Linked DNA regions of Homo sapiens: region 1 is linked to region 2. The links come from fine-mapping of genetic effects on gene expression. Tissue or cell type: whole blood. Region 2 holds a variant in brackets; the other region holds the start of a gene. All regions are shown on one strand. Distances are between the middles of the regions.

Region 1 (2,739 bases), 130 kb before region 2:
ATCACACCACTGCACTCCGGCCTGGGCAACAGAGTGAGACTTTGTCTCGAAAAAACAAAAGAAAACCTGCAACCATTGACACATGCAGCCACCCACACCCTTTCTTGTGGTCACCTCACCGTACTCGGCACCATCACGTCCTAAACACAGTGTCCCATAATCATCATCTCACAAAATCTCAGTCCCAGACTTCTGCCTACCTTGAGCAGATGGGGCAACTGCTGGGTAACCAGCTCTTTGAACTCGTTGACGCTGAGGCTATCCTTCCGGCCCTCCTGCCTTGCAAAGGTGAAGAAGGTGGTGACCACGGTCTCAATGGACTCCTCTAGCTCTGTCAGTGGTTCTGCTGCCATTAGGACCCTGAGGCCAAAGCTGATGTCCTCAAGGGGCTAGCTGACCTTTGTCAGGGCTGACCTGTGGAAGAGAGAAGGAGCAGAGAGGGAGAGTCAGGGAGCCCCAAGATGCAGGAATGGTTCAGAAGGTCCCTGCCTTGGTGTTATCACATCAGTCTCAGCCTGGAGGGGGCATATGGGGAAAGAGGGAGAGGACAGGGGTTGAGCTTGGGGCAGCAGACCAGGCAACGGCATCTCAGTTTTGGTGGGGGCAGGAGATTCAGCTCCAGAAACCCCCTCTTCTGTAGGTCTCACAATCCGGGATCCTTTTTAAATGTCTGTGGCTTAGGGACCCCTCTGTGGTGATCCCTCGATCTGGAGACCCCTCTACTTGAGAGGAGGTCTTCAGTTGAAGGTCCTTCTTGGAGTCCTTCAAGTCTGGTGGCCCCTCTGTGGCGTGTCTGTCTCAAGAATCCCTTCTTGTCTCACCCAGACTCACAGGTCATAAGGTTGTTTGTCTCCAAAGCTTGTTTATGTTGGGCCCTGGTCTCCGGCCACTCGCATCCGCCCACACACACTCTAACCGCTCCTCCCAGCAGAGAAGCACAGGGTCTGGCAAATGTCCCCTGTGGTCAGAGCTGGCTCCGTCTGAACAGACCCATTTTCTCTGCCCCGCTCCACCCTTACCTCTCCTCAGCGGCAGCAGGGCAGAGTGCTGAACCCAGGACCCCACAGATCCTCCCCGCTCCTGTCTCCCGGTGACAAGGGTCCTGGAACGGGGCGTCTCTGACTCCCTGCTCCAGGACGGGTTTAGTACAGGCACTCACAACCCCCTGGGGTGCGGCGGGTGGGGCTGGAAGAGGCATTCTCTTTTCTGTCCACCCCGTCACACACTCCTGCACGCGCTGTTGCTCGATCATCCAAAGCTCCTTCCTGAATTCCTGTCTGAGCTGGCTCTGGGGGAGGGACCTGGGAGCCCAGGAAGAAAAAATGATCTCCAGCCTCCCTCCAGGGTCAGCCATGAGACTCACCCGGCAAGGAGATGGGGTAGAGTGAGCTGGAGCCTCAGGGCTGAGGTTTATAAGCAGCGGGGAAGGAGGAGAGAGCTGCTTCCAAGCCCGGAGGTGTCAAATTTCCGTGGTCGATTCTGAAGACCAGAGACAGCCCAATCAGGCCGCTTGCCCTGAGCCCTCAGGTCTGGACCCGGGCTCCCTGCCAGCCACACGAGCGCCCCCACTTGGTCAGGGAGAGGAGCTGCCTGGACAGATCTCGTTCGGCAGGGGTCCCAGGGTCCTAGTCCTCTCAATACTGGGGGCTGCTGCCACCATACCCATGTCTAATCAGGAGTGTGTATGCTGAGGGGGGAAGAGGGAGGCAACCAATCAAGGGAGCTCAACACTGAGAGGCCCAATCTGAGACACACACAGAGGCCCCTTGGAATGAGATCCCACAAAGGATGCTACAGACCAAGATCCCTCAGAGAACCCCAGGCTGAGGCCCCACACACAGAGGGGGATCCAGGTTGAGACCCCCAGAGAAGAGTCCTGGATTGAAATCCCTCTGTGGGTTCTCAGACTCCCAAGACTAAGTTTCTCACTGAGGGTCCTCTCAGTGAGGCCCCATGGAGGAGCCACAGACTAAGACCCCCTCAGCAGAATTCCCCCCTTACCGGGCTCAACCAGCACAGCCAGCCACAGGTACTGCAAGGCCCAGCTTGGGGTAAGACATCCAGTGTCCCTCCCAGGACCTCCTTCCCACCTCTTTCCCCTGCACCATCCACTGCTGCCTGGAGAGAAAGGAACGGGGCAAGCAAGGCTGGGAAAGAGACAAGGGCCGCCTGTTCCAGCCCAGGAGACAGAGGGCGCCTCTGTCTGCTCCTGGCCCCTTGCCCCACAGGGTGTTCGTCTGTGAAGGGGTGGAGTCGGTGGGGGGGTCAGCGGGGGAGGGACTGTTGAAGACAGGTCTCCACACACAGCTCCAGCAGCCACATTTGCAACCTTGGCCATCTGTCCAGAACCTGCTCCCACCTCAGGCCCAGGCCAACCGTGAGTACCCTGCCCCACTGGGCTAGTCCCTGGCCTGCCAGCTTCAGGGAGAGGGGTCTTCAGAAGGGCTCCAAGAGGCTGGGGACCATAGCACTGTGGAGCACTGAGGATCTGGGAGGAGTCAGTCAGGGTGAGGGCAGTTTGGGATTTGGGGGAGACAGGGTTTGGAAGGTGGTGATGAGAGACAAATGAACTGAAGGTCGGAGAGAGAGCTGGCAGCTCAGCAAAGGAGGAAGCCAGTGGGGAACCCACCATGAGCTTCCTGACCGCCTGGCCCTCCCACAGGGAGCCCTCAAGTCCCTGCCAAGGCCCCCTCTGTCTCCCAGGTGTTGGGAAGGGTCCCAGCCCTCCCCTGCCTCGCC
Region 2 (2,500 bases):
GCAGTGGAGTCAGAAATACCTTGTTAGAGATGAAGGTGCATCAAGATCTGGTGTTTTCCATCATTCATCAACAGATGAGGGTAGAAAGGAGGGGGAGTTAGTGTAAAATAGCCCTAATTCCTAGAAATGCTACCTGTTAAGCTGGCATCTTTGGGATTTCCCTGGTCAGCTTCAAGGATACTGTTGTATACCACAGACATAAGCTGTCCTTGTGTGCCTACCATGACACAGTCCCCCACCTACTCTCCTGGGTAATTCCCATGGTCTAGTGGGATTATGAATTGTCCTCTATCAGACCTCCCATGTGGCAATTAAAAATTTTTTTTACTTTTTATTTTTGTAGATACTGGGCCTTGCTTTGTTGCCCAGGCTGATCTCAAACTCCTGGCCTCAAGTGATCCTCCCACCTCAGTCTCCCAAAGTGTTGGGATTATAGGCGTGAGCCACTCTGCCCAGCCTAAAATTAATGTTAGATAAAAAGTTAAAATTCACTTCTCTAGTTGCATTAGCTACACGTTGCTAATGGGTTTCATTTAGACTACACAGATATAGACATTTCTACCACAGAATCGGACCCACAGAATTAGATACTGCAGAATTTTGTTAGACAAAATAAGTTTGAGGTTAGGGTTTCTGGGGCTCAACTTGCCAGTCCCATCCTTTTGAAACTTTAATCTTCCTTGAACTGGATTGAAACAGTTCTGAGTGGAGAGGGAGGTAGATTAATGTGAAAGCCAGCAGGGCTTCAGCACTTCCCACTAACCTCTCATCCTTGATATCAGTCCCCAGCTTCCAGCTCTCTTCCCCTGAACAGCTAGGAGCCAATCCTTTGGTTCCAGAAGAAATCATAGTTTCTTCAACCCTCTTTCCTTCCCTCCCTAGAACATGTTGTTCCTTTGTCCTCCCTCCAGCAGGTAAACAATCCATGTTTTTATTCTCTTTCCT[G/A]TCCCCCACTTCCTCTTCCCTATCAAGTTCATGGAATGTCTGATGATTGGTCGGGATCTCGTAAGACTACTTCAGAATGTTGCTAGGATACCAGAATTTGAACTGCTTTGGAAAGATATTATCCATAATCCTCAGGCCTTGAGTCCTCAGTTCACAGGTAAGTAGGGTCTTAGGCATCCTGTCCTTGAGAGCTGGGAGTTCAATGTGTATGTCTTGCTTGAATCAAGAAGGTAGAGGTTGGTGGGTAGGAGAGTCTTTGGTGGTCAGATTTAGGAAGCCTGGGACAGGGCAAGCTTTGCCAAGTACAACTGCGAATGGCAGAGGTACAGAACAATTCATGTAGTTCCTAGACAGCCCCTACTTGGCAGACTCCAGCTGCCACATTACTACTAAGAAAAAAGTGAGACAGATAACTGTAGTCCTCCTCCCCTCTTCCTGGCAGCTCCTTGGCTCAGGAGGTGAGCCAGTGGCCAGTGTTCAGCTTCACGGAGTCTAGCAGGGGAGTCAGAGGTCAACTCGTGAGACTGAGTCAGTAGAGGGCTGGAATTAGTCCTGTAAGAGAAGGCCCCTCCCTGGGAACAGTCTTGCCTCGAATTCCAAGGATCCAGCTTGGGCAAAATCCACTTTGGAGGAGGGAGTCTCCGTGTGCCTCCTCCCGACAAGGTCCTTTTTATATCCCTTTCCCTTTCCCAGGGTCCTGCTATGTTCTGAACAATAACTGTACAGCTTTGCTCCCCACCCCACCTCAACACACACGTGCTTGTGATCGTGCATGCACCCGCTCCCCTCCTACACACACACACACACACACACACACACTCACTCTGAAGGCAGTTGTCCAGGACCTGGGAAGTCAGGAAAGAAGAAAGTGCTGGAAATTGTAGTACTCTTATATTGAACATCTATTTCATTGCTTTAAGTGCCTCCACTGTGTTAGACAAACATGTGTTACCTCATTTAATCTTCTGGACAGCCCTGTGAGTATTTTAGTTTCTACATTTATACATAAAGAAACTGAGGTTTGAGGCCGGGCGCGGTGGCTCACACCTGTAATCCCAGCACTTTGGGAGGCCGAGGCGGGCGGATCACGGGGTCAAGAGTTCAAGACCATCCTGGGCAACATGATGAAACCCTGTCTATACTAAAAATGCAAAAATTAGCTGGGCATGGTGGCACATGCCTGTATTCCCAGCTACTCGGGAGGCTGAGGCAAGAGAATCGCTTGAACCCAGGAGGTGGAGTTTGCAGTAAGCCGAGATCGCGCCACTGCACTCCAGCCTGGCGACAGAGTGAGACTCTGTCCCAAAAAAAAGAAAAGAAAAGAAAAGAAACTGAGGTTTAAGGAGATGAAGTAATTTGCCCAAGGCTGTACAGCTGGTAGGTTAGGTGACAGAGGCAGGTCTCTTTTTTTTTTTTTTTTTTGAGACGGAGTCTTGCTCTGTCCCTCAGGCTGGTGTGCAATGGCGTGATCTCAGCTCACTGCAACCTCCGCCTCCTGGGTTCAAGCGATTCTCCCGCCTCAGCCTCCCAGGTAGCTAGGATTACAGGCACCTGC

What was found. PIP is the estimated chance that this variant, and not a neighbour inherited with it, causes the effect.
Region 1: S100A13 starts here. The variant in region 2 is fine-mapped to the expression of S100A13 in whole blood (TOPMed, PIP above 0.99).

Annotation. Positions count from the first base shown.
Region 1 is chr1:153,626,120-153,628,858 of GRCh38, forward strand. It overlaps S100A13 (S100 calcium binding protein A13), which reads right to left and starts at 1,386. Exons shown (of 3, transcript NM_001024211.2): 1 at 1,364-1,386; 2 at 201-414. The coding sequence starts at 353. It overlaps S100A1 (S100 calcium binding protein A1), which reads left to right and starts at 2,315. Exons shown (of 3, transcript NM_006271.2): 1 at 2,315-2,377. RefSeq lists enhancers at 808-1,633, 2,460-2,739.
Region 2 is chr1:153,751,307-153,753,806 of GRCh38, forward strand. It overlaps INTS3 (integrator complex subunit 3), which reads left to right. Exons shown (of 30, transcript NM_023015.5): 8 at 973-1,102. Among named protein-coding and RNA genes, the nearest start is that of SLC27A3, 23 kb to the right of the region's middle. The variant G/A (reference allele first, on the strand shown) is at 946.